4 separate regions of the Homo sapiens genome follow, and all the other regions are linked to region 1. The links come from fine-mapping of genetic effects on gene expression. A gene starts in region 1. Each other region holds a variant in brackets. All regions are shown on one strand. Distances are from middle to middle.

Region 1 (8,107 bases):
GACAACACTACGCTTGTGTTTTCAGGAAAGGGAAGAGAAAAAGGTGAATAGGATATCTCCTCCTAGTTCCGTGTTTCAATAAGTCTGCATTATTAGGGGAACAAAAAGGAAAATAAGAATTTGAAGAGGGGAATTCTCATTTTCCCATAACCCCAAACAAAATAAAAACCAAACCAAACCAAAACAAACTGGAAAAGATTCCCCTAGTTGGGGGTGCAAAGATGATAATGAGGAAGCCATGAGGTCTTCTTGATCGGAGGAGGCGGTAGACAGGGACATGGGTAACTTCACAGAGAGTCCCTGTGGCCTGGCACAGGTGCATGTGATATAATATAAATGGTATATGAGCTCTCCTCTGGGATATGTAAGCCTATCTGCATAAAGCAGTTCTGTAATGTAAGAACTTTGGAATGATGGGTAGGGGAGGAGGGAGGAGAGAGTAATTTTTTCTTATGGAGGCTGTATTGCTCAGGATTTAGGATGCCCCACAAACATTTAGGAATAACATATGTCAAATCACTAGGGTGTGATGGTACATTTTATAGATCACCTTCAATAAGAAGAAAGCCAAGACTTTTAGAAGTATCTTGGAGCCTGACCTGTCCCAAAGTAGGCAAGGCCTAGGGCCATTTCCATTCAAACTCCTGGGATCAAGTGATTCTCCTGCCTTGGCTTCCCAAAATGCTGGGATTACAGGCATGAGCCACCTGGCCCGGCCTGTGGTGTATTTTAAATGTTTATATTTAACACATTAACACTTTGAACATAAAAGTATACAATGACTACATCATTAAACTCATTTGAGTATAGTATCAACATTCTAAATTTAAGGTAGAGCCCAAAGAGCCCTCTTGCTTCCCCTCGATAGCCCTTAGAGTCTGTGAAGAAAGCTCTTTTTCTAAGTCCCGAATGATTGCATAATTTCAACAGGCACCAGCAATCATTCATTAAGTGTACTTGTTCTTCTCAGATAAAGTCTTCTGATTTTAGGTATAGAGAGATCACCGTATCTCCTTGCCACAGCATCAGTCTCCTCATTTTCCGCCCTTGTCTGTTTGTGTTGCTATAACAATACCTGAGATTGGGTAGTGAAAAGAGGTTTATTTGGCTCATGGTTCTGCAGGCTGGACAAGACGCACGGCACAGACATCTGCATTGGATGAGGGCCTCAGGCTGCTTCCACTCCTGGGAAGGCAGAAAGGGAGCACACCTGTGTGAGGCACATGGGCAGAGAGGAAGCTAGAGAGAGAAGGAGGAGGTGCCAGCTCTTTTCAACAACCCGCTCTCTGACAACTCACTCATGCCTGAGGGAGGCATTAATCTATTCATGAACAATCTCTCCTCAGGACCCAAACACCTCCCATTAGGCCCCACCTCCAACACTGGGGATCAAATTTCAACATGAGATTTGGAGGGAACACAAATCCAAACCATAGCAGAGAAGTCACCAGGAAGAGTCCTGATTGTCTCCCTGCCCTGGCATCAGCCTCCTCATCTAAACTCTGGGAGCAGTAACCCCTTCCCAAGCTGTCTGCCCCTCCAGAGTGTGTTCAGGGTTATTAGTGGCTGGCAAGCAGGGGCTACTCCCTGGATGAGAGGGCAAAGTCTCTCATAGGGTGAGATGATCCTGTGGCAATAAACTAACAATGCCAATTAGCGGTGCAGACATGTCCTATAGATCAGAAATGAGGAGGAAGTCCCAAAGGGCATTGAGAAACTTAAATCTGGATTTTGGGGCTTTGTGTCAAAAGCTTCTGAACATAGCTGTGGGTAGAGAAGATGGAACTGAACAGAAAGACAGCCAGGCCAGCTGCTAAAAAGTTATGCCAGCCTCGGTGATAAGACAGAGATTACTGTGGGATCACAGACTGCTATTTTGGGAACATACATTATTTTCTTAAAAGCTGTTTATATTTTCTGTAATTAGGTCCTTTTTGTTCTGTCTTATGTTAACACATTTAAAAATGCTAGCCTGGTCAGCTGTGTTAAGAAGAACCAAGAAAGAGATTTTCATTCGGCTTGTCCAGAGTTTTAAAGGGGAAGTGGCTTACTAACCGCCTGACATAGTGGAAACAGAGTGAGATCCTCAGAGAGCAGGTAAACTGAGGGCAACTTGAGCTGTAAACCCTTGTTTAGAAACTCTCCCACACTAAGATACATTTATCAAATTTGTCTCCATCTCTCCATCCCCACAGTCTGTTACTGTCCTGGTGGCCCAGACAAGAGAGAAGAAGGGACCTCAATGAACAATGAAAAGGAAGAGTACCCTGGGATTGGTGGTCCAGGGATGGGAGGAGTGGGTACCTATGGAGTTTGCCCTCCAGAATGGAGCCCGCAAACAGAAAATCTGATTGTAGCAGTCAGAGAGTAGGGGGTGGAAGTTCAGTGTGAGCATGAACTTCTGAGTGCCAAAGTACCTAGGCAGGCAAGTTACCAAATTTTTTTTTCTAGTTAGGGAAGGAGAGGACATATAGATGACAGGAGGACTTCAACCAATGCCTAGGTAGGGGACATGTGAGGGTTAGTGGGCTAGCATTGCTCCTTAAGCAAACTGGGGCACAGAGCAGAGTTAATGTAGCTAACTGAAACTTAACAGCAGAGAAGAGGCAGGATTAGGGGAAGAGAAAGGCTGCCGATTGTGGACACCTGAGGACTGGAGACCACCCACCCATCAGGCTGGGGACAGTTGAATCATTCAGGACCCCACCAGGTTCTATTTGAACACAGGACTGGTCCTCTGGGGCTGCTGCTTGAAGAGCTTTGGTAGCTACAAAATGTCCCAGCCTCAGTTCTGCCCTTACCATCTGCTCCAGTTATCTACTGAGTAACCTACCACACCAACACTCAGTGGCTTAAACAACAACAATCCTTTATTTTGCATTTTGAGCAGGGCTCAGCAGGGACCACTCACCTCTGCTCTGTAATGTCTAGGGCCTGTGACTCAAAAGGCTAGGGACAGCTGGGGACTGGTGGGACATTTCTCTTCCTACAGACTCAGGGCTTCTCCCCACAGTCTTTCCCATGTTCTCTGCAGCAGTCTCCGGGTAGCTGAACTTAGGGGTGACTTGAGGCTCCAAGAGCAAGAATTTGCAAAGGCCCCAGCAGAAGTTGCAAGGCATTTATGATCTAGCTTCAGAAGTTCCAGGATATGGTCATTTCCACTGTATTCTATTGGTTTAACAAATTGCTAAAACCTGCCCAAATTCAAAGCGAGAAAGTATAGACCCCACCTCTCAACGAAAGGAGTAACAAATAATTTGCCACCATTTTTAAACCATCATGCTATCTCACCAAGTCCTCAACAAAGCCTCCTAACTGATTTGCTGTCCTCAGATTCTCATTAGTGACAGATCGGGATGCAGCAATGCGCAGAGTAGAAAAAGTGAGGGTTTTGGAAGCCAACAGCCAGCCCTACATCCTGGTTCAAGCAGGATCCACCACTCAGCAACCAGTTGAGCTTGTTAGGTTACTTAACTCAGAGCCCCAGTGTTCTTGAGTGTAAAATGAGGATAATACACTATAGTTGCCAAGAAAATGTACTTCTTGGATCTTGCAGTGTAGATAGCATAACTGACCAATGGCTCCGCCTCAACTGCTGAGCTCTGCTGAAATCCATACCCTGATATTTATCCCTAGGTTGCTGCAAAGGCCAGCTTCCTAAGGCTGCTCCCAGCTCATGACTGAGCACAGCAGGGATACTAAGGCGGGCCTCTTTCTGGGAGATGCCAGACTTCTGGGACAAGCCCATTTGGCTAAAGGATTCCCCACCCCAATGGCCTTGCTGAACTTTTTATACATGGACTGTATATATATCAAATGCTTCCTTCCACCCAACCTTCCTTCCTTGCTTGCCTCTTTCCTTCACAAGGATCACACCTGCATCCCAGGTCCAGCTCCCTGTTTTCCCTCAAAACTCTCTTGCATAGTACCCCCATCTGGGACTGTTTCTGGAGGACTGGGACAAACACAACCTCCTATTCATAGGACTGCCAAGGGTATTAAATGAGTAGAACTGTGCAAAGAAACTAGTAAAGGGCTGGCGTAGAAGAAACACTCATTTAACGAACACTTCTTGAGTCCTGGCTGTGTGCAGGTCTTGGTCCTGGGTGTCTGGGACACCACAGTGAGCAAAGCAGGCAAGAACACCAGCGATGCCTGCTTTAAGCTCCTTCCCAACTTCCACATCTTTAACAGGATACCAAGAGCCCTTCAAAGTCTGACCTCTTGGGGCCTCAACACCTCCGACTCCACCCCCTGAACACCTGAGCCTACAGTCAAAAGGAACTTCCTTCTTGCTTCCTACAGGTTTTGCTCTTTCACCCCCAATGCCTTTGCTCACCGTTTCCTTCTCCGTGAAATGCCTCCTCCTCCCTTTTTTGCACATCTTCCATTCTTGCACATGCCCCTTACGTGACAAACTTATGCATCCCCCAGGCCCCAGTTCAATGTGGGGCCCTAGGTCATCCAGGCAGAACATGCTTGCTGGCATGATCTCAGCAGGCACCTGGTAGAAGCACTTGCTACATTGTGTTGTAATTGCGGTAACGGTGTCCCCGCTAACTTGCGAGCGCCTCTAGAGCAGGGGAATGTCCCAGCCACCTTGAATCCCCAGCGCGTGGCCCATGGGAGGCCCTCAGACCTATCTGCGGAATGAGTAAATGAGTGTGTGAACCAGGTTCGGCAATTTCGGTGGGGCGAGCGCTGGGCCTGCGGTGCAGGGCGCTGGGAGCGGCCAGGCCGGGCCTGGCTCAGGCGCCGCAGCCACTCAGGGCCACCGGGGACCGGCCGGGGAGGGCGCGGGCCGAATCACTGCCGCCGCCGCAGGGCACATGACTGCGGCCTCCGCCCCCGCCCGCCTCCCCGCGCAGTCGCCGGCGGTTGCCTCGCGGGGTTGCGGCGAGCCCGGCCCGCGAACGTCACGTCCCTGCGCGCTCCCTGCACTCTCCCGAGCTGCGCTAGGCGGGCGCCACGGCTGCCCGGCGAAGGAAACCGAAACCGAGTCCGGGCCCGTCCCTCCGCGGCCCCATCCGCCCGGTGCACCCGGGGCCGCGCTCGCCAGGCCGCGGAGCCCAGAGCTGCGCGCACGAACCGTGCGCCGGGAGGGCGTGGGCGTGGCGCCGAAGGGTCCCGGGTCTTCGACGCCTCTGCGGCGGCTCCTCCCTCCTTGCAGTTGGATCCCTGGCGGGTGCGGCCCGGCCCGGCCCGTGAGCGGCGCACAGAATGGGCCGATGCTGCTTCTACACGGCGGGGACGTTGTCCCTGCTCCTGCTGGTGACCAGCGTCACGCTGCTGGTGGCCCGGGTCTTCCAGAAGGCTGTAGACCAGAGTATCGAGAAGGTGAGGCGGGGCGGGCTGTGTGTGTGTTGTGGAGTCGTCCAGCTCACCCTCCCATCCCTGCTGCTACATCTTGTATGGGAAAGACCAGCACTCAGGCAGACCCTCCGCGCTAGAGCTCTTCTTGCGTCCCTGTCTTCCAGGGCTTGGTAGGCGAGGGTTAAAGAAGGATGAGGAAGGATGGAGCCGACTCTGTTCCCTTTACAGTGATAAGTAAGGCTATGGATCCTGACTTTTAAAAAGGCCTTCGGTTGTGTTCTGTCGTTTGCATCTCTCCCCACTCCTTCCGTCTACACCCCAATCTCAGGTGGGCCCAAACTTGTTTCCTTCCCACTTCATGAAGAAACAGAACTGAATGAAAGACACCGCAGAAGAGGCAGGTTATGTTGTCTGCTTGCTGTAGCCTTTGAAGTGGTGTGCGCCTGGGGATGAGACGTGGGTGTGCGGTCTATTGTGTTCTTGCCCTCTTGGGCTGGGCAGGGGCAGTTGGTAGCTGGGCCAGTCCTTTAGGCTGGGTGACAATTCATCCATCAGTCTTTGCTGAACGCTGACTTAGTGGCTTTGTATCTTGTACCAACAGTCTGTGTTGCTTTGTCTCACCATGAATTCTTGTTTTTCTCAAACGGCCATAATTTTCAGGCACAGATGCATTTAGATACCCTACAAGAATCTGAACTTGTCTCTTCCTCTAGATGATTGGGCTGGAGAGCCAGTCCTTTAAGAAGACTTCATCTTTTGATTTCACTGGTCATTTCATCTGCCCTTTCCCCCACATCCACCAAGCTGTGTCAAAAGAGGAACAAAAGAGAATTACTGGGATCATTTTTTCCTTAAAAAAGAAAAATAATCACTGGAGCAGCAGCCTTTCTTGTTAGCATCCATAACTGCACGCTTCATTTCTCCCACTGGTCTGCACTTGCTGCGGCCAGATAAAAAAGCCCAGGCCTAGTCTACTTTGAATCACTGCACTCTCCAGTCAGTAAAGCTATTTTATTCCAGGTGGCAATGGATATCTTCCTTTAACTGAGTTTCCAAAAGTAATTAAGTGAGTACCTGAAATCTGGCAGTTAAAGGCAGTTTTTCAAAAAGCACCATGGCAAAGCATAATGTAATTTTTAAAGTTCACATTGCCAAGGGAAGACAAGGCCCACTGTCTGAGCGTCTCGAGGGTCAGTTTCCTTTGAGCAATCATGTTCAAGGAAAAAAGAAACTGAATCCTTTCTCCACTCCTGTCCATGTCCAAATCCATGGTGAGCTGTGTTTGAGGATGTAAACTCTTGCTTTGGGTGACTAGAGTAAAGCAATCCAATTATAGTAAATATGTGAGTTTTCTTATATGGCCTTGAAAGGCTGTTTCAAGGAGCCCTATAGGATGAGTGATCTTCCCCGTGGTTCCCATATAGCCAGCCCTTAGATTCTCTGTGTGTCTCCATTTCTCTGGGTGAGGGGGTGGCTGTAAGGCAACTTGGCTGGGGCCTGAGTTTGTGTTGATATTTCCAAGTGTTTTTCTCCATGAGGAATGGACTCTGTTCTGATAAGTAATAGTACAGGGAAGTGGACTTTCAGAGCTGCTCAATCCCAGCTAAGGAGGACTGCACGGTGTATTGTATGAAACTAAAGGACAGGGCTAGTTTCAGTGGGCAGGTGTGGAAATACTGTTGTCATTAGAGGTAAGTCACACATCGCTATTCTGCTTTTTCCTGGATTACCTGTAGGGTGGTAGGTAGCATGGGACAGTGGGAAAGATTGAGGATGTTACACTCCTGGGCATGAAACCTAGCTTCCACTATGTCCCAGCTCGGTGACCGTGGGCTGTTTAATCTTACTTGATTCATGTTTTCCCCATCTGTAAATAGGGATAATAAGGACTAACGATCACATCTGCTTTGTCAAATAATTCTTATAACCTTAAGGTGTGATCTTTCTGGGATATAGTTAGTGCTTAATAGGTGATAGCAACTTTATTTTTATTAGAAGCCACACAAAGAAAATACGTGAGATTTGGAGTCAGATTCCATATGTTCAAATCCTATCCTTGCCAGTATAAGCTTTATGACTTACGTCAAATAACTTACTTGGTCCTCAATTTCATTGCTTGTAAAACTGGGGATATGAGCTGTTAGCTAACTTGGGCACAGTGATGCATTTACCATGAAACTCGCAAAGTTAAGCTTTGGGTCTCTCACTTGCACAGACCCTTGCGAAGCCCTGTACCTCATTCTATATCCCAAATTTTCTTTTTTCTTAAGAAGGACCCTTCAAATTGTATAAGCTTCAGGACCCACAAAACCTGGATTTGTCTCTGCATGTGTATTATTGTAGGACCAAGTATAAAGCACTTAGCATAGTATCAGGCACAGAATAGGTAATCAATATGTGGCAGTCATCTTTATTGCCACTAGTATTACTATGGGAGAATTCATTCATAACTTGATTCTAATGTAGTTATAATATAATCTACTCTGATATTTCCAGTTCTTTGTTTTTTCATTTGAAGATTGTCTATGCCCCGACTTGTCTATGTCAAAAAGGGAAGAGGGAAAAGGGATGAAATTCAAATGAGTAGGTGTGGGAAGCTTAGTAAGAGAATTCCTATCCAAAAAGTTGTCTCAAATGATAATTGTCCTTGAACCCTGCAGTGACCAGAGGTAACTGAAGAGAGACTTTTAATTTTGGCCAGTGAATATCGTGGAAGGAACCAAGACAATTTTGTTTCATTTTTGGCCTCAGTGGTGACTGCCTCGTATTGGGCAAGGCCTGTAATTGTTTCTGC
Region 2 (8,107 bases), 20 kb before region 1:
AATGAGACAATAACAAAAAGGCAAATACTGTATTATTCCACCTATATGAGGTACTTAGAGTAGTCAAATGGTGGTTGCCTGGGGCTGAGCAGAGGGAAGAATGGGAGTTATTGCTTAATGAATACAGTTTTGCAAGATGGAAAGACTTCTGGAGATGGGTAGTGGTGATGGCAGCACAACAATATGATTGTACTTAATGCCACTCTACTGTACACTTAAAAATGATTAAGATAGTAAATTTTGTGTTATGTATGTTTTACCACAATTAAAAATTGTGGTAAATAAACAATAAAGTTTTTTTAAATGTTGTCTCTGTACCTAACATGACTAAGCACCCTCCTATTCTCCTTCCCATCACATCTCTCCTAGATTATCTTGGGCATCTGAACCTAAGCAGGTGCAATAGTTTCATTTGATTGCCCCCTTTAAGTCCGCTCCTTGTTGGACTCATAGTTACCTTTACCTGCTTACTTCTTGATGATCACTGGGCTGAGCTAGGAATTCTGCCTACTGCTAGTTCCTGTGCTAAAGATAAATGTAGTATGAGGAAACAAACTCACCAGCACCCTGGCAGGATCCTTCAGCCAGCCCACAGAGCAGTTGTTGCCCATTTGTCTTGGAAACTACACACTCATATTTTTAGAAAGGGACAAACAGTTTCCCTGAGCTAGATCAAAATTCAACAGGGAAGCGGAGGTAGAGAAAACCCCGTTCCTAGCTCCTGAAGACTGTGAACCAGACTTGGAAACGCCAGGCTAACCCAAAGTAACCTGGGAACATTCAGCCTGACCTGGGTCAACCGTGATACAAAGGAATATTTAGAGTCTTGGCAGGAAGAGACCTGATAATTCCATAGCCTTCCTTATGGATCATGGCTCCCCATTAGACACAGAATAAATTCAGATTCTTCAAGCTGGTATTCAAAGCCTCCCGGGTCTGGCCTGCTCACCTATCTTCCCTTATTTCCCAATCCTTCTCCTCTCTATATCATTACAGGGCTACACTGCAAACTCAACTATGGGTCTGATATAGTTTGGACAAATGTCCCCACCCAAATCTCATGTTGAATTGTAATCCCCTGTGTTGGAGGTGGGGCCTGATGGGAGGTGATTGGATCACGGGGGTGGATTTCTCAGGAATGATTTAGCCCCAGCCCCTTGGTGCAGTTCTTGTTATAGTGAGTGAGTTCTTGTGAGATCTAGTTGTTTAAAAGTGTGTATCACTTCTCTCCTTCCTCTCTCTTGCTCCTGCTCTGGCCATGTGATGTGCCTGCTCCCCCTTCACCTTCTGTCATGACTGTGAGTTTCCTGAGGCCTCCCCAGAAGCTAAGCAGATGCCAGCATCATGCTTCCTGTGCAGCCTGTGGAACCATGAGCCATTAAACCTCTTTTCTTTAGAAATTACCCAGTCTCAGTTATTTCTTTATAGCAACGTGAGAATGGACTAACACAGGGTCCAAACTCCTTGGTTTGTCCTCAGAATGACTGTACTTTATGCTCTGTGATACTAATGATACATGGAGCTGGATTGGGACAGACAGACATCAAAAGGACTAAAATTAACTCTGAGTCCTATATACCTTCACTGTTTTTCATACTATCTCAAGCCAACTTTTACCTTGTAAACCAAAAAAAAAACAAACAAACAAACAAAAAAAAAAAAACTCTAAGGCCCCTCAACCATCTGAATGGACTTTCTCAGCCAGGGCACTTTTAAAATTAAACCTGAGGCATGATGGGAAGTGGGGTTGGGCATACCTCATTATACCTTTCCAGCATTAACATCAACACAGACTTTAAATCTGATAAGAAACATTTTATGGCCAGGCGCGGTGGCTCACACCTGTAAGCCCAGCACTTTGGGAGGCCGGGGCGGGTGGATCACGAGGTCAGGAGATCGAGACCATCCTGCCTAACACGGTGAAACCTCGTCTCTACTAAAAATACAAAAAATTAGCCGGGCGTGGTGACAGGCGCCTGTAGTCCCAGCTACTCAGGAGGCTGAGGCAGGAGAATGGCATGAACCTGGGAGACGGAGCTTGCAGTGAGCCGAGATCATGCCACTGCACTCCAGCCTGGGTGACACAGTGAGACTCTATCTCAAAAAAAAAAAAAAAAGAAAGAAAAGAAACATATTTTACAACCTATTCTCTCTGAAGCCTACTACCTGAAGGCTTCCTCTGCAAATAAGAACTTTAGTCTCCACAATCCTTTGTCTTAACCCAGACATTTCCTTTCTGCTGATCCCAGGTCTTTAAATTCAACCAATTGTCAACCAGAAAATTTTTAAACCCACCTATAAGAAGCCCCTGACCCCCACCCCACCCCCCACCACCCTACCCCACCACTTTCAGTTGTCTTACCTTTCTGGACCAAACCAATGTATTTCTTAAATGTATTTGATTGAAGTCTCATGTCTCTCTAATGTGTAAATGTCTCCCTAAAATGTTCTAAGCTGCACCCCAACCACCTTGGGCACATGTTCTCAGGATCTCCTGAGGGCTGGGTTATAGGCCACGGTCACTCATATTTGGCTCAGAATAAATCTCTTCAAATATTCTACAGAGTTTGACTCTTTTCATCAACAACCCAGATGTGGGTTCTATCAGGGTGCTGCAGTTTCTATCCTGTGTTTTTCACAGATCACCTTTGATCATCTCATTATTTGAAATAAATACAATATGAAAAAGTTTCAGACTTGGTCAAAGTCCAAAGACATCTTGATTGCTACAAAAGCAAAGGAACCTAGATAATTGAGCTTATACTGGAGTGAATCATTTAACATCTGTTTGTTTTCATTATTTTCCTTTAACATTCTTGTGAGAACTATAAAGTGACTTAAACCTGAATAACCAGTTTGACAGGTTTCTGTTGGGTGGGGACAACTAAAAAAAAACACAAAAAATGTTCTTTAATCTCTCCAAGCCACTTTTGATATGTAAAAAATTCAAACCAGTTGTTATACTTTGCTCTGGTGCCACAGTTATAAAAGACAGGTAAGAGCATAACATTGGCACCAGTCTGCCAGGAACGAATCCTGGCTCTACTGTTTACTAGCTATGCAACCTTGGGAAAGTTATCTAACTTCTCTGTGCCTTGGTGTCCCATCTGCTAAAATGATGATAATAATAGCACTTACCTCATCAGATTGTGAGAGGATTAAATTGATTATCACATATAAACTGCTTAGAACATGCCTAGCATGTAGTTAAGCTCCCAGTAAATATTAGCGTTACAATGCAGAGGATTTCTGAAATGGGGAATCGATCTAGAACTAGTCAATGAATTTGTGAGTCTCCTTTGTGAAACAGCAGCATATGGTCTTAAGTTGGTAATATGAGAATGAAAAACACCTTCTCTTCTCTTAACAGGTTGATCTCTCTTGAGCCCTTAACTGGGAATCCCTATCTGTGCTTAGTTCCTAGCTTCATGATCTTGGACAAGTTAATTATTATCTGAGATTTTTCCAGGTTTTTTTTCAAATGTAAAATGGGGATAATAATTCCTACCTCCCACAGTTGTAAAGGAGGTAAAATATGGAGAGTGCCTACTGCTGTCCCTGGCATAGGAGGCTTCTCTTCCTAACTCCTTCTAATCCCCACCTTAATTTTAGTGAGGACAGGTAGCTTAGAATTATATTTTAAAATATATTTCCCAAAATGAAACTTATTTCTATTTTATTTATTTATTTATTTTTTGAGACGGAGTCTCGCTCTATCGTCCAGGCTGGAGTGCAGCGGTGCGATCTCGGCTCACTGCAAGCTCCGCCTCCCGGGGTCACGCCATTCTCCTGCCTCAGTCTCCCGAGTACCTGGGACTACAGAAGCCCGCCACCACGCCCGGCTAATTTTTTGTATTTTTTAGTAGGGACGGGTTTTCACCGTGTTAGCCATGATGGTCTCTATCTCCTGACCTCGTGATCTGCCCGCCTCGGCCTCCCAGAGTGCTGGGATTACAGGTGTGAGCCACCGCGACCGGCCAATTTATTTTTATGTTTATTTTTCAGGAGGGAGGATGGCTGCTGGTCCCCACCCTGTCCCTACTATCTTACTTTAATTTTACTATTTAAATCAGGCAAAGAAAAATTTTTTTTGAGAGACAGAGTCTTGCTCTATTGCCCAGGCTAGAATGCAGTGGCACAATCCTAGCTGGCTGCATCACTGCAGCCTCAAACTCCTGGGCTCAACTTCTCTTCCCACCTGGGTGTCTTGAGTACCTAGAACTACAGGAACACACCGCCATGGCCGGCTAACATTTTTTTTCCTTCCATAGAGATAAAGGTGTCACTATATTGCCCGATCAGGTCTTGAATTCCTGGCTTTAAGTGATCCTCTCAACTTGGCCTGCCAAAGTGCTGGTGAGACAGCCAGGTGGGAGGGGGTCCCCGGAAAAACTCCAACCAACCTGCGCCCTGGGGTGGAGTCTCGGGAAGTTCACGCTGTTTGCAGCGGGGAGGAGCCTGGCCGCCTCACTTCCTGTGTGGAACCTAGGATTCCAACCGTAAAGCAGGAAGCATTCTAGCAGGGACTCTGGCCTAGCAAGAGTCCCTGTTTCTTCCTTTTCTTCCTTTTCACCCA[G/A]TACAATTCTGTCTTACCATTCAAATTGTCTGCAAGCCTGAATTTTTGTGGCCATGGGACAAAGAATGCCATCTTTAGCTTCACAAAGGAAAAGTCCTGCAACATTTTTGACCCCCAACATGGGGCTCAAGAAGCGGTGAGTGAAATGACTCAAAACCTCTCACTGTTGCTCCTAAGCCTTTTCATCCTCAGACTTCTGAGAGTGGGGGAAATCATGCCCACACCCCCGCATTGCTCCCCAGCCTTTTCATGGCCTTTTCTTTCCTTTTTCGGGATGGACCAGTGAGCAGCGGCTCCCCTCCACCCTCCCCTCCCTGCCTGGGCTGAGACACATGGCCCAAGGTGCCGCGGGCAGCTGGCTGGTGTTTTCTGCCACACACCCTGGGCCTGAAAGGCCATCTCTGACCCGCAGCAATTAAACTTGTCTCCCTGGTGAAGGAACCACTTGAATAAGAATAAGAGGTTCTTCCCCAGGCATTTTTTAAACTTTTTTTCTTTCCTCTTCTTCACCCCATCAGTAGTAACTTTTAAAGTTCTTTTCCTTTTAGAAGATGCTTTACTAAACCAAGCCCCCCCCAACCAACTATCTCTGTTTGTATTATCTGCAAAGTTTTGGTTCTGAAATGAAGCCTTCATCTGGTTTTACATATTGGGGGCACTGCCTGTAACTGCTTGATAGGGCTTTGTTCAGCAATCCTGCCTTAGGGGATGAGCCTGCTGTGGTTGGTATCTGGATGTTTTCCTAGCCCTGTCTCTTAAAGAACCCCACCCGGGGACTGGGTTTTCTCCTGCCTGGCTGTTATATGTGTGTGTTATATGCTTGTCAGTTACATATGTGTGTGTGTGTGTGTGCGTGTGTGTGTGTGATGTCTGTAAAAAGAGCTCTAATTAATTTGGCCTAAAGAAAGACAAGTGCTCAGATCTAATATTTTTTTAAGGGAAGATAAAAGCTGTGATGCCTTTCAGTTCACGCGACTTTAATCTTTGAGAAATAAAAGCAACCTTAAAGATTATTGGTAAAAACAGATGTCATTAAAATGTAAATAGGTGGGCTGCATAATGCAGGTCAGATGCAAGGTTTGCTAAATGTTTTAAGGTTACAAACTGCTTTTTGGGTTTTGAGAAATATGACTTGCTGGCTTCACAGCTGGTAAGGCCTGGGGACACATGGAACTAACCACACCCTTAATTAAGAAGGCAAAACTTGGCTGCAGTTAGCACACAATTAGAACAACTTACCAGGTTTTAAATTAACGTTAAAAATTCTAGGAGTTACCATTACAACATGTAATTGAGACTACTGGAAATAGATTTACATGCAAGGTGTGTAAGAACGGTAAAATGTGGTTTTTTAGTAAAAGGTTATAAGGAAGCATGGAAATGTAAATTTTTGCCTAGGGTTAAAGGATTGTTTTGAGTTAGATAGGAAAAGCTGAAGGTTCAAACAACTGGTGCAAGAATTATGGAAATTAATCTTGCAGAAGAGGTTCTCTGTGACCATGTTAACTAAATTCAAAAGGGTTATTAAAGGTTTTTGCTGCTTTAAAATTTCTGAGTCATCATTTTGGCAAAATTGTTTATAGTAATCTGGAACACTATTTCATAATATCAAATGTTTTAAACATATTTAACAGCCTTCCAAAAATCAAACTTAAGTTTCATAATTGTCTTTTCTGATACCTGGCTTTTAGATAGTCCAGAGGGCCCCTGAAACATCCAGAAAAGAGAGGCAAACGAGATGATTTGACATGTCTAGGTAAATGAAATTGTCATAATGATGTTCAATCTTGTTTAGGTTATATTTTTGTGAGTAATATTAATACATGTTCCAAAACTGTATGGGACTTTCTAAAATTCTAATGTCTAAGTTATGCTACCAATCATAATTAAGGTTGTTATGTTAACTTATTGTAAACCACAGAGAAAACCAAACTCCTTTGTCAATTGTGTTTCCAAGTGTAACTACCCTGGACATTTTTGCTATTCAGAGACAATTGTTGTCTTGTTTTAATCCTTTTCAAGAGATGATTTAGAATAAGCCGTAGAACTGTAACAGGTGCTCTCAAATACAGGCTTCTGATAACTTTGGAGATTGTGACATTGGAATAAAGGAAAATGTACAGGACTCATGAAGAGCTGAAATGTTCACGAATATCAACCAAAGCAAGAATTAACTAAATGGACTGAACTCAGAAAACTAAAGCAATCTTTTTGACTTTTGCTTGGAATATTGCTCATCCTTGTTTTGTTTCTCAGAGTCAAGGAAACTTATTTTGAACTATTTATGGCCTTTAATAATTAAGCAAGGTATACTTCTGTAACCAAAATTTGAAGCATGTTTGTTTCTCTCTGCCTGGTTCCTCTAAAATTTGAAAACTATCTGTGAGTATTCATAACTTATGGCAATATAGTTGTTTACATCAGTGCAATAGGAATCCACTTCTCTCTTGCAACGGGACACAATTGGAAAAACTGGTTACTTTACCAAGTCTTTGACTGGAAGGGTATGCTTTCCTTTAAGGAGTCAATCTTGACTTGCAGCGCCAATAAAATCCCAGTGGGGAAACTGGCCTCATACCCTTGTTTACACAGTCCCTGCACAGGGTTCCTATGGTCAGTAAAGAATGCCACTTTTAACAGGTCCAGGAACTCCAAGTTTATCTTGGAACCTTAAGAGGAGAGGATCACCAAACTCACAGGTATTTGAGGATAAACCCATGCCTGGGCTCAGCTTTAAAAGGTCTTATCTGATTCCTTGTGGAACAAACTTCCATCGAAGCCAATCCGAAAGGCCTTTGCGGAAATAATAATTCTTGCTGTACTTTATGCAAATAATCAGGCCAAGTATAAAAATGTAAAGTCTATTTTGCAAACAACTCAGTCCTGTCATGATTTGTTTGTTTGTTTGTTTTTAACAAAAATGAGGACTGGCGAGTGAGAAATCGTGTTTCAAAACCTATCATATATTTGTCATTAAATTCTAAACTCACTAGTTGTTTTTAAGTTTTTACCTACATTTTAAGACTAATCCTACTTGTTCCTGTGAACCAACCGGCAGTCTCCAGCTGCAGCTCAGAAAGAACAAGAGGGATGGGTAATGTGAAAATCTGGATCAACATTCTAATTCTGAGGAATTATCCTGAAAACCCTGCCAGGTGATGGGAATGAATAGGATGCCCATCACTTGGACATTTCCTTTGGGAAAATAAGACCAAGGGAGCTAACAAAAGCCAAGCATCATGCACCCAAATCTTAGCAAGCATAACTATAGCTATCAGTCATCTGGGTGTGTCACAAGACATCCTTTCCTCTCCCTTATTGGAGGAGGACTCAGTTCTACGGTTTCACCTTAGCATGCAGCTTATGATAGGGAGTCCATGCAACTCCCCTGAGACACATTTTTGTTCCAAACTCAATTCCAAGCTTTGGGTCAAAGCCCTAGGAAAGAAAACTGGATCTAAGGGATCCAGAGGTAGACAACAACAGAGGTTAAAAGGCACAGCACAGGTGATCGTGGCTGATTCCTGCCAA
Region 3 (8,107 bases), 180 kb before region 1:
ACAGCATCAGCTTAAGGCCAAAATTGCTTTATCCTTTCACATGCGTATTTTCCCCTTGAGACCTTGAGCTTCTTCGGGGTTCAATAAGGGAATCAGTTAGCATAAAGTGTGCACAAAATTATTTTATGAAAAAGTTAATTAATGGGCCAGGCGTGGTGGCTCATGCCTGTAATCCCAGCACTTTGGGAGGCCGAGGTGGGCAGCTCACCTGAGGTCAGGAGGTCAGGAGTACGAGACCAGACCATGGTTTCACCATGGCTAACATGGTGAAACCCCGTTTCTACTAAAAATACAAAAAATTAGCCCGGCATGGTGGCACGCTCCTGTAATCCCAGCTACTCAGGAGGCTGAGGCAGGAGAATTGCTTGAACCCGGGAGGCAGAGGTTGCAGTGAGCAAGATCGCGCCATTGCACTCCAGCCTGGGCAATAACAGTGAAACTCCTTCTCAAAAAAAACGAAAAGTTAATTAATGAATTCTTTAATATTTAGGTTCTTCAAGTTCATTTTTTGTGTCATCTATTCGTGGTACAATAATTGAAAACACATCTTCAGCTGGGACTTTGACACAGGTTCCTTTTTTCCCTAAATATGAAGTGGAACTTGATTCTCCTAGAAAAATCATCCCATCTCCTGGAAAGGAACACTTTGAACGTGTTTTGGAAGAATATTCACATCAAGTCAAAGATTTACAGAGAAGACTAAATGAAGTGAGTTGCCTTCTCTTCTAGCACCTGATGCTATTTGGGGGACAACAGTGAGATCCAGTATGTAGTTGTAAAGCCAGTTATACAACTTCCTGGAAGAAAAAACTAACAAATGGGTTTATTGGTTAAATTTGTTAATTTGACCTGTGCCTTCTATTTTCGGTATTAAAATTGGGCTAATGAAAAGTCTACATATTTATTTTTCTTTTTTAAATAATTATTCAAAACATCTTGGTTTCATGATATAAATTTTAATGAAACTTGAATAACTCAAAATTATAATAAGTAGCATTTGTCTGCATTTATAGTTAATAATTGGCATAGACCTGCTGTCCTGCTATCATGATACCTGATTTCTCTTTACAAAGCAATGGTAGAGGGTAGGTTTTTAGATATGTGTGTATACATTATAGCTAAATAGCATCTAGAAGTTATTTGCTAAAAATTTCAAGTGGACATTACGTAGAATCAAACTGGCTTTACAATTGCATATTTGGTCCCAGTAGTTAACAGTCTAAAAGTCAAACTCATTACTGCCACATACAAAGCTCTTCATGCTCTAACCTCTCCCTGGTACATTTTAGCCTCATATGCTACCCATTCTCCATTGGTACCTATTCTGGTAGTATCAGGCCACTTGCTCTTCCCTAGATATACTGCGCTATTCCAGACCTGCATGCCTTTGCCCAGGCCATTTTCTCTTCTCTACCTTGTCTGCCTGGCAAACTCTTATTATGCACCAAGACTCAGCCCATGCATTTTCTTCTCTGAAGCCTTTCCTCTAGATGACATTAGGTGTGCTCTCCTCTGTACAGTTACTGCCATTTGTGCACATTTATTGCAGTATTTAGTACATCTAATTTTACTCATTACCACATTGTTCTACCTCATCAGATTGTGTGAGCACTTTTAGGAAAAAAAAATCTACAATTTTATTAAGTGTTGAAAATTATGTACCCCAGTATGCACAGGGATACAAAAATGAATAAGGTAGGACTTACAAGGAATTCATAGTCTGGGAGGGGAGCTTGTCATATAAACAGTGGCATTACCTATGATAAATACACTAATGAAGTTGTATATATAGACAAACGAAGCACAGAGGCACTAATGAGGAGAAGAAACAGTGTCTTAATTTGTTTTCTATGTTTATCCCCTAACAGAGTATATGACACTTAATTGGCCTTCAATAAATAAGTGTTAAATCAGTAAATTTCCCTTCTTGTGTAGGTTTTTGTTTTTACTGGGGTTCCTAATTGCCTTTTTCCTTACACTATTTGCCTTTACATATCCTTATTAGAAAAAAACATATCATATAGATTTTCTATATCCTCCTTTGACCCAGGACACTCCAAGTGTCTTCTGACCTTTTGCTCAGTCTAGATTAGTTTCTCTTAGGTATCTTGTATAACTCTTTTCCAAAGACTCCTGCCACTACTTTCCAGGTTGGATCCATGGTTTCCAGGAATCACTGTTTTCTATCTTCTTTCTTTTTTTTTAATTAAACAAAAAGGTATATATATTTATGGAGTACATGAGCTATTTTGGTACAGGCATGCAATGTGTAAAAAAATCACATAATGAAAAATTGGGTTTCCATCCTCTCAAGCATTTATACTTCATGTTACAAACAATCCAATTATATTCTTTTAGTTATTTGAAAATGTACAATTAAATTATTATTGACTATAGTCACCCTGTTGTGCTATCAAATACTAGGTCTTATTCGTTGTATTTTTTTTGTACCCATTAACCATCCCCACTTCTCCTTCACTCCCCCACTACCCTTCCCACCCTCTGGTAACCATCCCTCTACTCTCTATCTCCATGAGTTCAATTGTTTTGATTTTTAGATCCCACAAATAAGCAAGAACATGTGATGTCTGCCTTTCTGTGCCTGGCTTATTTCACTTAACATAATGACCTCCAGTTCCATCCATGTTGTTGCAAATGACAGTATGTCATTCTTTATTATGGCAAACAGTACTCCACTGTTTATAAGTACCACATTTTCTATATCCATTCATCTGTGGATAGACACTTAGGTTGCTTCCAAATCTTGGCTATTGTGAACAGTCTGCAACAAACATGGGAGTGCAGATACCTCTTTGGTATATTGATTTCCTTTTTGGGGAGTATATACCCAACAGTGGGATTGCTGGATCATACGGTAGCTCTATTTTTAGTTTTTTGAGAGACCTCCAAACTGTTCTTTATAGTGGCTGTACTAATTCACATTCCCACCAATAGTGTACAAGGGTTCCTTTTTCTCCATATCCTTGCCAGCATTCGTTATTGCCTAACTTTTGGATAAAAACCATTTTAACTGGGGTGAG[T/A]TGATATCTCATTGTAGTTCAGATTTGCATTTCTCTAATGATCAGTGATGTTGAGCACTTTCTCATATGCCTATATGCCATTTGTATTTCTTCTTTTGAGAAATGTCTATTCAAATCATTTGCCTATTTTTAATCAGATTACTAGATTTTTTCCTATAGAGTTGTTTGAGCTCCTTATATATTCTGGTAATTAATCCCTTGTCAAATGAGTAGTTTGCAAGTATTTCTTCCCATTCTGTGGGTTTTCTCTTCACTTTGTTGATTGTTTCCTTTGTTGTGTAGAAGCTTTCTAACTTGTGATCCCATTTGTCCATTTTTGCATTGGTTGCTTGTGCATGTAGGGTATTACTCGAGAAATTTTTGCCCAGATCAGTGCCTGAGAAGTTGACCCCAATGTTTTCTCATAGAGTTTCATAGTTTGAGGTCTTAGATATAAGTCTTTAACCCATTTTGATTTAATTTTTAAATATGGTGAGAGATAGGGATCTAGTTTCATTCCTCTGCATATGGATATCCAGTTTTCCCAGTACCATTTATTGAAAAGACTGTCTTTTCCCTAATATATGTTCTTGGCACCTTTGTTGAAAATGAATTCACTGTATGTGAGTGGATTCATTTCTGGGTTCTCTATTCTATTCTATTGTTCTATGTGTTTGTTTTTATGCCAGTACCATGCTGTTCTGGTTACTGTAGCTCTGTAGTGTAATTTGAAGTCAGGTAATGTGATTCCCCCAGTTTTATTCTTTTTGTTGAGGATAGCTTTGGCCATTCTGTGTCTTTTGTGATTCCATATGAATTTTAAGATTGTTTTTTCTATTTCTGTGAAGAATGTCATTAGTATTTTTATAGGGATTGCATTGAATCTGTAGATTGCTTTGGATTGTATGGACATTTTAACAGTATTGATTTTTCTAATCAATGAACATGGGATATCTTTCTGATTTTTAGTGTCCTCTTCCATTTCTTTCATCAGCATTTTATAGTTTTCATTGTTGAGGTCTTTCACTTCTTTGGTTAATTCCTAGTATTTCATTTTATTTGTGGAACTTGTAATGGGATTACTTTTTTGATTTCTTTTTCAGATTGCTCACTGTTGGCATATAGAAATGCTATTGATTTTTATATGTTAACTTTGTATCCTGCAACTTGACTGAATTTGCTTATTAGTTCTAACATTTTTTTTGGTGGAGTCTTTAGGTTTTTCCAAATATAAGATTATATCATCTGGAAACAAGGATATTTTGACTTCTTCCATTCCAATTTGGATGTCCTTTCTTTCTTTCTCTATGTGATTGCTCAAGCTAGGACTTCCAGTACTATGTTGAATAACAATGGTGAAAGTGGGTATCTTTGTCATGTTCCAGATCTTACAGGAAAGGCTTTCAATTTTTCTCCCTTCAGTATGATACTAGCTGTGGTTCTGTCATATATGACTTTTATTATGTTGATCTTGTAAGTGTGCTTCATTATTTTCTATTCTATACCCATTTTTTTTGAGTTTTGTCCTGAAAAGATGTTTAACTTTATCAAATGCTTTTTCAGCCTCAATTGAAATAATCATATGGTTTTTGTTTTTCATTCTGTTGATATGATGTATCACATTGATTGATTTACATATGTTTAACCATCCTTGCATCCCAGGGATAAATCCCACTTAGTCATGATATATGATCTTTTTAATGTATTGCTGAATTCAGCTTGCTAGTATTTTGTTAAGGATTTCTGCATCAGTATTCATCAGAGATACTGACCTGTAGTTTTCTTTTTTTGATGTGTCTTTGTCTGGTTTTGGTATCAGGGTAATAACTGCCATCATAGAATGAGTTTGGAAGAAGTTCTTCTTCCTCTATGTTTTTGGAACAGTTGAGTATAATTGGTGTTACTTCTTTAAATGTTTGGTATTCAGCAGTGAAGCCATCAGGTCCTGGGCTTTTCTTTACTGGGACTTGTTCAGGTTTTAGATTTCTTCAGGGTTCAATCCTGGTAAGTTGAATGTGTCTAGGAATTTGTCCTTTTCTTCTAGATGTTTCCAGTTCATTGGCATGTAATCACTCATAGTAGCCACAAATTATCCTTTGAATTTATGCAGTATCAGTTGTAATGTATCCTTTTTTTGTCTCTGATTTTATTTATTTGGGTCTTCTCTCTTTTTTTCTTAGTCTTGCTAAAGGTTTGTCAATTTTGTTTATCTTCTCAAAAAACCAACATTCTGTTTCATTGATCTTTTGTATTTTTTTCATTTTATTTCTGCTCTGATCTTTATTATTTCTTTTCTTGTACTAATTTTGGGTTCAGTTTGCTCTTGCTTTTCTAGTTCTTTAAAATACATCATTTAAATTGTTTATTTGCAGTTTTTCTTCTTTTTTGAAGTAGGCACTTAATAGCTATATATTTCCCTCTTTGTACTGCTTTCACTGTATACCATAGGTTTTGGGATGTTGTGTTTCCATTATCATATGTTTCAATACAATTTTAAATGTCCTTCTTAATTTCTTCATTGACTCACTGGTCATTTAGGAGCATATTGTTTAATTTCTGTGTATTTGTATGGTTTCCAAAATTCCCCTTGTTATTGATTTGTAGTTTTATTCCATTGTTGTCAGAGAAGATGGTTGATATTATTTCAGGTTTTCTTGAATGTTTTAAGACTTGTTTTATGACCTAATGTATAGTCTCTCCTTGAGAATCATCCATGTGCTGAGGAATGTATTCTGCCCAGAACATTCCTGTGTCTATTCCTGTGTGTATACAAGGCTGTGTATTCTTCAGCCTTTGGATGAAATGTTCTGTAAATATCTATTGGCTCCATTTGGTCTATAGTACAGATTAGGTTTTATGTTTCTTTGTTGATTTTCTGTCTGAATGATCTATCCAGTCCTGAAAGTGGGGTGTTGATGTCTCTAGCTATTGTTGTATTGAGGCTTATCTCTCTTTTATTTCTGATAATATTTGCTTTATATATCTGGGTGCTGCAGTCATGGCTCCATAGGTATTTTAAATTGTTACATCCTCTTACTGAATTGACCCATTTATCATTATATTGTGACTTCTTTGTCTCTTCTTATGGTTTTTGTCTTTAAATCTATTTTGTCTGATATAAGTATAGCTACATCTGCTCTTTTTTGGTTTCCATTGGCATGGAATATCTTTTTCCATCCCTTTATTTTCAGGCTATGTGTGTCTTTGTAGGTGTAGTGTGTTTCTTGTTGGCAACAGATCATTGAGTCTTGTTTTTTAATCCATTCAACCACTCTATGTCTTTTGATTAGACAATTTAGTCCATTTATGTTCAATGTTGTTATTGATGACTAAGGACTTACTCCTGCCATTTTTGTTATTTGTTTTCTGGTTGTTTTGTGGTCTTCACTTCCTTCTTTTTTTCCTTCCTGTATTCCTCCTAGTGAAGGTGATTTTTCTCTGGTGGTATGCTTTGATTTCTTTATTTTTAAGCCAGTCAAATTTAGCAGTTGGTTTTATACCAACTCTAGTGACACTAATGTTAATAAGTTCTGATAACCCACTACCATGCTTTGATTTCTTGCTTTTATTTTCTGCGTATCTGTTGTATGTTTTTTTACCTTTGAGGTTACCATGAGGCTTGCAATACTCTCTTATAAACCATTATCTTAAAACCATCACTTAAAAAGTGATGACAGTTTAACACTGATTGCATAAACAAACAAATGTACGAAAACCAAACTAATACAAACTCTACACTTTGACTTTGTGCCCCCACTATTTAACTTTTAGTTGTTTCTCTTTGAATCTTATTGTACTATCTATGGCTTGAAAAGTTATTATTACTTTTGATTGGTTTATCATTTAGCCTTTCTACTTAAGAGAAGTTTACACACCACAATTACAGTGTTATATTGTTCTGTGTGCTTACTATTACCAATGAGTTTTGTACCTTTGGATGATTTATTCTTGCTTATTAATATCCTTCTCTTTCAGAATGAAGAACTCCCTTTAGCATTTCTTGTAGGATGGGTCTGGTCTGGTGTTGATGAAATTCCTCATCTTTTGTTTTCTAGAAAAGTGTTTATTTTTCCTTCATGTTTGAAGGATATTTTCACCAGATATACTATTCTACAGTAGATGGTTTTTTTCTTTCAGCACTTTAAATATGTCATGCCACTCTCTCCTGGCCTGTAAGGTTTCCACTGAAAAGCCTGCTGCCAGATGTATTGGAGCTCCATTGTATGTTATTTGTTTCTTTTCTCTTGCTGCTTTCAGGATCCTTTATCCTTGGCCTTTGGGAGTTTGATTATTAATTGCCTTGAGATAGTCTTCTTTGAGTTAAATCTGCTGATGTTCTGTAACCTTCTTGTAGTTGAATGTTGGTATTTTTCTCTAGGTTTGGGAAGTTCTCTGATATTTTCCCTTTGAATAAACTTTCTACCCCTATCTTCTTCTCTAACTCCCTTTTAAGGCCAGTAACTTAGATTTGCCCTTTTGAGGCTATTTTCTAGAGCTTTAGGTGTGCTTCATTGTTTTCTTTTCTTTTTTCTTTTGTTTCCTCTGACTGTATATTTTCAAATACCCTGTCTTCTCACTAATTCTTTCTTCTGCTTGATCATTTCTGATATTAAGAGAATCTGATGCATTCTTCAATACAGCAATTGCATTTTTCAATTCTAATATTTCTGCTTGATTCTTTCTAATTATTTTAATCTCTTTGTTAAATTTATCTGATAGAATTCTGAATTCTTTCTCTGAGTTGTCTTTAATTTCCTTGAATTTCCTCAAAACAGATATTTTGAATTATCTGTCTGAAAAGTCATATATCTCTGTTTTTTCATAATTGGTCCCTGGTACCTTACTTAGTTCATTTAGTGAGGTCATGTTTTCCTGGATGGTGTTGATGCTTGTAGATGTACTTTGGTGTCTGGGCATTGAAGTTAGTTATTTGTGGTAGTCTTCACAGTTGAGCTTATTTGTGCCTGTTCTTCTCGGGAAGGCTTTCCAGGTATTCAAAACCCCAAGCCCAATAATGCTATGGTTTTTGCAGACTCATAGGGATACTGCCTTGGTGGTCTTGGATAAGATCTGGAAGAATTCTCTGG
Region 4 (8,107 bases), 25 kb after region 1:
GAAGTCACCCACTGTTGTGAGGACAGCACCAAACCTTGAGGGATCCTCCCCTATGACCCAAACAGCTCCCACCTGGCCCTACCTCCAACACTGAAGATTACAGTTCAACATGAGATTTGGAGGGGACATCCAAACTATATCATTCCACCCCTGGCCTCCAAATTTCATGTCCTTCTCACATGTTAAAATATAATCATCCCTTCTCAATAGTCCCCCAAAGTCTTAACTCATTCCAGCATTAACTCAAAAGTCCTAAGTCCCAGGTCTCATCTAGAAATGAATTCCTTCTACCTATAAGCCTGTAAAATCAAACAAGTTATTTCCTTTCAAGATACAATGGGTGTATCAGCATTGGGCAAACATTCCCATTTGAGAAGGGAGAAATTGGCCATAAGAAAGGGGCTACAGGCCCCAAGCAAGTCTGAAACCCAACAGGGCAGTTATTAAATCATAAAGCTCCAAAATCATCTTCTTTGACTCCGTGTCTCACATCCAGAGCACACTGGTGCAAGGGGTGGGCTCCCAAGGCCTTAGGCAGCTCCGCCTCAGTAGCTTTTTTATGCTGAGATTGCAAGCTGATGGTGGCTCTACCATTCTGGTGTCTCAAGGACGGTGGCCTTCTTCCCACAGCTCCACTAGGCAGTGCCTCAGTGGGGACTCTTTGTGGAGCCTTCAGCTCCGCATTTCCCCTCCTCACTGCCCTAGTAGAGTTTCTCTTGAGGGCTCTGCCCTTGGAGCAGGCTTCTGCTGGGGCACTTAGGCTTTCTCATACATCATCTGAAATCTAGGTGGAGGATGCCAAGCTTCCTTCACTCTTGCACTCTGTGTTCCTGCAGGCTTAACATCACATGGAAGCTGCCAAAGCTTATGGCTTGCACCCTCCAGAGGAGTGGCCTGAACTGTACCTGAGCCCCTTTGAGCCATGTCTGGAGCTGGAGTGGCTGGGATGTGGGAAACAGCACAGGGAAGTAGTGCCCCTGGCCTGGTCCCTGAAACCACTCAGTCCTCTTAGGTCTCAGGGCCTGTGATGGAAGGGGCTGTCTCAGAGATCTCTGAAATGTTTTCAAGGCCTTTTACCCATTGTCTTGACTCTCAGCACTTGGCTTCTTTTTAGTTATGCAAATCGTTTTAGCAATGGTTGCTCTACAGCCTGCTTGAATTTATCTCCCCACAAAAATATTTTGTTTTGTTTTGTTTTTGAGACAGGGTCTCTGTTGCCAGGCTAGAGTGCGGTGGCATGATCATGGCTCACTGCAGCCTTGACCTCCTGGGCTCAAGGGTTCCCCCTGCCTCAGCCTCCCAAGTATCTAGGACTACAGGCAAGTGCCACCATGCCTGGCTAATTTTTAACTTTTTTTTTTTTTGAGACAGAGTCTCCCTATGTTGCCCAGACTGCGGAAATGCTTTTCTTTCTCTGCCACATGGCCAGGTTGCAAATTTTCCAAACCTCTATGTTCTGCTTCCCTTTTAAAAATAAGGTCCAACTTTAAGTCATTTTTTTACTCCCACATCTGAGTGTAGGCTGTTAGAAGCAGCCAGGCGACATCTTGAATGCTTTGCTGCCTAGAAATCTCTGCCAGATATCCTAAATCATCACTCTCAAGTTCAAACTTCCACAGATCCCTGGGGTGTGAACACAATGCAGCCAAGATCTTTGCTAAGGCATAACACATGTGAACTTTGCTCCAGTCCCAATAAGTTCCTCATTTCCATCTGAGACCTTTTCAGCCTGAACTTCACTGTCCATGTCACTGTCAGCAATTTGGTCACGATCATTTAATCAGTCTTTAAGACATTGCAAACTTTCCCTCATCTTCTTGTCTTCTTCTGAGCCCTCCAAACTCTTCCCTTCTCTGCCCATTACCCAGTTTCAAAGCTGCTTCCACATTTTCCAGCTATCTTTATAGCAATATTTGACTCTCAGTACCAATTTTCTAAATTAGGTTGTTCTTACATTGCTATAAAGAAATAACCTTCCTGGGCATGGTGGCTCATACCTGTAATCCTAGCACTTTGGGAGGCCAAGGTGGGTGGATCACTTGAGGTCAGGAGTTTGGGACCAGTCTGGCTAACACAGCAAAACCCCACCTCTACTAAACATACAAAGATTAGCCTGGCATGGTGGTGCCCACCTGTATTCCCAGCTAGTCAGGAGGCTAAGGCAGGAGAATTGCTTGAACCTGGGAGGCAGAGGTTGCAGTGAGCCGAGAACATGCCACTATACTCCAGCCTGGGTGACAGAGCAAGGCCCTGTCTCAAAAAAAAAGAAGAAAGAAAGAAAGACAGGGAGGGAGGGAGGGAGGGAGGGGAGAGAGAGAGAAAGAGAGAGAAGAAAGAAAAGAAAGAGGGAGAGACCTGAGACTGGGTAATTTACTTAAAAAAGAGGTTTAATTGGCCTATAGTTCCACAGGTTCTACAGGAAGCATGATGCTGGCATCTGCTTGGCTTCTGGGGAGGCCTCAGGAAACTTATAATCATGGTGGAAGTAAGAGAGGGGGAGCAGGCATGTCACATGGCCAGAGCAGGAGCAAGAGAGGGGAGAGGTGCCACACTTTACAACAGCCAGATCTCGTGAGAACTCACTATCTCGAGGACAGCACTAAGCCATGAGGAATCCTTCCCATGACCCAAACACCTACCAGGCCCCACCTACAACATTGGGGATCATATTTCAACATGAGATTTTGAGGGGACACCAAAACTATATTATTGGTCTTCGTAGATTAATTGTTTTAGTCTGTACAAGTCAATATGTAGAATTATAAAGATGAACCCTGTTGCTATATGAAGAAATCTAAGAAAATACTTGGGTCCTCATTTTAAAAAGCCATTTTGTATGTGTTCTATGCCTGATGAAACACTGTGTACTGGGTAGAGAAAGTTTGTATTTTAAGCTCTCCCACTGGCAATAATTAGAAGTTGAACCAGGATCAGTATCTAAGTGTCCCATTGTTTGTTGTTGTTGTTATTTTTAAATGAAATTCCTTAAGATGTGATGGAGACTCTGCAAACTATCCAAAATAGTGTCATTCCAACATGTTAGCAATATTTAGAATTATTAATGAGATACTTTACAATCTTTTTTTATACTGTCTTTGAAATCCTGTGTGCATTTTACACTTATAGAACATTTCATTTCAGACTAGCCACATTTTGAATGTGCAATAGCCACATGTGTCTAGTGGCTACCCTATTAGACAGCATAATTCCAACCATACTCCCATGATTTTTTGTTTGTTTGTTTGTTTGTTTGTTTGTTTTTGAGACAGAGTCTCATTCTGTCTCCCAGGCTGGAGTGCAGTGGCGCGATCTTGGCTCACTGCAACCTTTGTCTCCCAGGTTCAAGTGATTCTTCTGCCTCAGCCTCCCCCGTAGCTGGGATTACAGGCACGGCCACCACGCCTGGCTAATTTTTTGTATTTTTAGTAGAGACAAGGTTTCACCATGTTGACCAGGCTGGTCTCGAACTCCTGGTCTCAAGTGATCCACCCGCCTTGGCCTCCCAAAGTGCTGGGACTACAGGCGTGAGCCACCATGCTTGGCCACTCCCATGATTTATAAGCTCCCCAGACACACTGCCTTGCCAGTATTCATGCTGTTGCTTCAGTCAAGAATGAATTCCTCAGCGCTACCTCTCTTGACCTTCACATCTTACTTAGTGCAAATGCTGTCTCCTCCTGAGACTTGCCTGACTTCGGATACTCTCCCTGTTACATCTTATTTAAAATGTCAAGTAGACTGGGCACGGTGGCTCACACCTATAATCCCAGCATTTTGGGGGGTTGAGGTGGGCAGATCACTTGAGCTTAGGAGTTCGAGACTAGGCTGGGCAACATAGCAAAACTCCGTCTTTAACAAAAATACAAAAAATTAGCCAGGCGTGGTGGCATGTGCCTGTGGCCCCAGCTACGTGGGAGGCTGAGGTGGGAGCATCGCTTGAACCTGGGAGGTGGAGGTTGCAGTGAGCTGAGATTGCACCACTGCACTCCAGCCTGGGTAACAGGGTAAGACCCCCATCTCAAAAAAAAAAAAAAAAGTGTCAAGTATACCACTTTATAGCACTTGTAAAGTGGTATGTTGATGTGGTTTGGTTGTGTCCCCACCAGCCAAATCTCAGCTTGAATTGTAGTTTCCATAATCCCCACATGTCATGGGAGGGACCCAGGGGGGTAATTTAATCACGGGGGCAGCTACCCTCATGCTGTTCTCTTGATACTGAGTTAGTTCTCACGAGATCTGATGGTTTTATAAGGGACTTTTTAAAAAACCCTTTTGGTTGGGTGTGGTGGCTGATGCCTATATTCCCAGTGCTTTGGGAAGTCAAGGTAGGCAGATCACTTGAGGTCAGGAGTTTAAGACCAATGTGGCCAACATAATGAAACCCTGTCTCTACTAAAAATACAAAAAGAAAAAAAAATTAGCTGGGTGTGGTGGCACACACCGGCTAAGGCAGGAGAATCACTTGAACCCCGGAGGCAGAGGTTGCAGTGAGCTGAGATCACGCCACCGAATGCCAGCCTGGGCGACCGAGCAAGACTTTGTCTCAAACAACAACAACAACAACAACAACAGACAAACAAAAACCCTTTTGCTGGGCACTTCTCCTTGCTGCTGCCACGTGAAAAAGGACGTGTTTGTGTCCCCTTCTGCCATGACTGTAAGTTTCCTGAGGCCTCCCCAGCCATGCTGAGCTGTGAGTCAATTAAACCTCTTTCCTTTATAAATGACTCAGTCTCAGGTATGTCCTTATTAGCAGCATGAGAACAGACTAATAAATATGTGCATCCATTATGACAGTGACTAATTGCATTTTAATAATTGGCTTAGGTATCTGTCTTTCTTCCCAATGTACTGGAAGCTCCATGGGGTGCAGTGACCAAGTCCTTT[G/C]GTCTCTGACTGTCTACTATTTAATGAATATTTGTGGAATATGTAAATTAAACATCTTCAACTGTGGTTTAAATTCATAGGACACATGGAAAAACTAACACTATAGGACACAATTATTAAAAAGTATTTAAAAGTAATGACAAAAAACGCAGTTACTTTGCACCCACCTAATAGCCGGAACCATAGGACTTAGTTCAGGAAACCCAAATATAGGTTCAAGAAAGGGGAATCAGGCCCTGAAAATGAATGGCTTTGTTAGGAATATGCATATGTGCAGTGCAGGCTGCTAAGAGCTCCTTACAGGGCTGAGTGGGTCGTGAGATCTGGGATTTGTAGAAAAACATGGCTTTTTAGGGAGCTGTCCAAACCTTCTATGGGGCCTGTTAGTCTCTACATGTGCCTTTTGCGGTCATTCACTGGATTTGATTTCTGTCACTTGTGGCTTTATGATGCTATTGTTTAGGCTGGATAAGACAGAACATTCCAGAAGCTTCTGCTCCAGTGTTTTCTCCCAACTGAGTCAGCTGACTCCATCAATTGTATGCCAGGGGGCCTGGGGCAAAGGAAGGGGAGGGCATGTAGCCCCTTTCGCCAGTTAGTACAGATTGGTGTGGTGGTGGGAAACCTCTGAGATGGGGAAGGGCCAAGCAAGACTGTGGAGGGCCTAACTCATCTGACACAGGATTTACAGTGGCACATTTCCCAAACCTTTCACATACTGGGGAGTTCAGAATAGTAATGTTTTTGGAAAAAGATGATGGGCATTCCAAATGTTGATAACAGCCAGTCAGTCTGGTTTAAGGAATGAAGTGTATTATTTACATTTTTGTAAAGCTGCAGATTGAGCAGCCCTGGAATGGGTCTGTGAATACAAGGCTCATTGGCCTCATGATCCTTTTGCTCAGGGACATATTTGTATAAAATTTGTATCAAAGTTGTGGTATCCCATGGCTTCTGCAGCCTTTTTGAGGTTTATTTTTTATCTTGTCAGATACCTTTTTCTATTTTGCCTACCATTTAACATTTCAAGAATTAAAAAAGAAAACAATTTGTCTAAGGGCACTTCCAATTAATTTGCGTATTTCTAAGAAGTATTTACTAAATTTACAGTATCCCGTGAAATATCTTATTTTGGGGTTTCTTAGTTTTGCTGTTTGGATTATTCATTTCTATTTTAGGCTTGTATTATTTAAAAAGATGTAAGGGCTAGATCTTAAGTTATTTTATTATTCATTGATAACAAGTAATACTGGATTTTCAAATATAATCAACATATATAATATATACAGCATTATCTTTAAGAGTGTAGACTATATTTTATATTATAAAAATTACACATATATATGTGTTCCATATATATAATCACTAAAGATCAACTTGAAAATGCAGTAAAGTTTTGAACAAAAACTACTAATCCATGGCTTCACTGTCTCAAAAATAACCAATGCTAACTAACATTTTAGTGGATATCTTCTTGGCCATTTTTCCATGGATGAGTTTTAGATGGTTATCATACTATGTACATATGCATGTACATATACAAAATATACATATTTTTTATTCACCTAATGTTATAGCATAGGATTTTTCAATGTTATATTTTGGTCTTCATACAAATGAATTTTAATGATGATTATATTTAATAGAGTAAATGTATTACTACACTTAACTGTTCCTTTCCTGAACATGTAGATCCGTTTTCATTTTCTCCTCTGGTTACCTCGTGGGTTGAATGTTCTCCTCATGTTTGCCAGCCAGTTGTGTTTCCACACTTTTAGTTCTTGTCCTTTGTCCATTTGCTTATCTGGGTTCTGGAGTGTTCATGGCACTCTGTGAACCTTTTATGTTTCATTTGGGGCAACTGCTTTTCCATTGTTTACCTTGTCAATTTTTAAAATGTGTTGTAGTCAAGTCTATTCTTTTTCAACATTTCTATCAGGTCTGAGCTTTAAAAGTCTTACTCCCTTCAATGGTTTGATGTTCAAGTCGATTTTCTTATAGTTCTGTTTTTCCACATTTAATTTCTTCAGGATCTAAGTGTCTTCCTTGCAATTTAGCAAAGGCAGGAATTTTGTTTATACTGTCTAATTCTGTCCTATTAACCCTTTAGTTCTTTAACCGTGTCTGAGCCAAGCTGTATAAGAAATTTTTTTAACATAAAGAGACAACAAAAAATTTAGGAACACCGTGATCATTGTTTCCATTATTATAGGAGAATGCTTTCTCCTTTTTTCTAAACTTGCCTCGCTTTTCTCTGATAGTGTTTTTAGATTGGTAGCTAAAACTGTATTTGTTTTGCCAAAATAGAAACAGATTTTGAAAAAAAAAATCCTTAAACTGCTCAGAAGTAAAAAAAAATAGAAAAAGATCTCTCACACCATCTTATCATGCACAAAAGGTTGTGACCAGGTATGTGTGAGTTTTAAATGCACGTGGTACATTAGGTGAATTGCCTACGTGAGCCTATGGGTCACTGCCTGGGGACAGGGAGACCAGGGAGATATTTCCATCTTAAGGAGTGAAACTGTTTCTTGCACACTGTCAACAAGCGGGTGAGTCTTCTCCCGACCCTGCTCTTACCACTTCTTCTCAGTATCCTGCTTTGTATCTACAGGTTGCTGCCTTCAGTTACCTGAGCGGGCAGCGTACTCAAAGTTAAGGGTAGAGGCTCCTCAGCCTGTGCCTTTGGCTGGCTCCCCTTGCTTTCCCTCTTCTCTGTGGTCACCCTAGGACTTCAGTACTCCTTTCACGTTGATGTGTTCATCACCCCAGCCTCGCCTGGATCTGTGATGGTCTTTTAAAGCGTGTCCTCCTCCTCCAGGACCACAGCTTTCTCACTCCCCACATGGGAATGCTTTCATGCTTGCTGCCCACCTTCGCCCCACCGCTGCCTCTGTTGGAACACCCCCTTCACCCTCCCACCTGCAGAAGCCCACTCTTTCCAGAATCAAGCAAAAGTGTCTTTTGCAGGAGTCCCCTTCCAGTTGCCATCCCTCCCTCCTCTGTATGCCCACAGTGCGTTTACTGTGAAGGAGGTGGCCTCTGAAGGCAGTCTCCCATGCTCTACTGTGGATTCTTGGAGGACCAGAACCAGGACTTAATGTCACACCATCTCAAGAGCTTAGCACAAGCCGTTGCACATGGTATCAGTAGCTAATCCCTCCTAAGCAGCAGGTGTGCCAGGTAGTGTTGTAACTGGATTTATGTGGATTTCATTCTC

Alleles and levels. Alleles are on the strand shown, and positions count from the first base shown. SD is a standard deviation of normalised expression in the study named. Not every link is listed here.
For the expression in lymphoblastoid cells of the gene that starts at base 4,940 in region 1, T is the low allele of the variant in region 3 and A is the other (large effect, 2.0 SD a copy in TwinsUK).

What was found.
Region 2: its variant is fine-mapped to the expression of SCARB2 in unexposed skin (GTEx, PIP 0.91).
Region 3: its variant is fine-mapped to the expression of SCARB2 in lymphoblastoid cells (TwinsUK, PIP 0.95).
Region 4: its variant is fine-mapped to the expression of SCARB2 in subcutaneous fat (FUSION, PIP 0.95).

Annotation. Positions count from the first base shown.
Region 1 is chr4:76,210,657-76,218,763 of GRCh38, reverse strand. It overlaps SCARB2 (scavenger receptor class B member 2), which reads left to right and starts at 4,940. Exons shown (of 12, transcript NM_005506.4): 1 at 4,940-5,337. The coding sequence starts at 5,221. It also overlaps a transcript of FAM47E not described here. RefSeq lists silencers at 4,602-5,221, 5,135-5,539.
Region 2 is chr4:76,230,908-76,239,014 of GRCh38, reverse strand. It overlaps LOC105377286 (a long non-coding RNA gene), which reads left to right. Exons shown (of 3, transcript XR_938897.4): 3 at 1-309. It also overlaps a transcript of SCARB2 not described here and a transcript of FAM47E not described here. Among named protein-coding and RNA genes, the nearest start is that of FAM47E, 17 kb to the left of the region's middle. RefSeq lists an enhancer at 4,243-5,119. The variant G/A (reference allele first, on the strand shown) is at 4,577.
Region 3 is chr4:76,388,870-76,396,976 of GRCh38, reverse strand. CCDC158 (coiled-coil domain containing 158) reads left to right here. Exons shown (of 25, transcript NM_001394954.1): 4 at 491-708. Among named protein-coding and RNA genes, the nearest start is that of CCDC158, 28 kb to the left of the region's middle. RefSeq lists an enhancer at 8,100-8,107. The variant T/A (reference allele first, on the strand shown) is at 3,042.
Region 4 is chr4:76,185,939-76,194,045 of GRCh38, reverse strand. All of the region lies in intron 2 of SCARB2 (scavenger receptor class B member 2), which reads left to right. Among named protein-coding and RNA genes, the nearest start is that of SCARB2, 24 kb to the left of the region's middle. The variant G/C (reference allele first, on the strand shown) is at 4,888.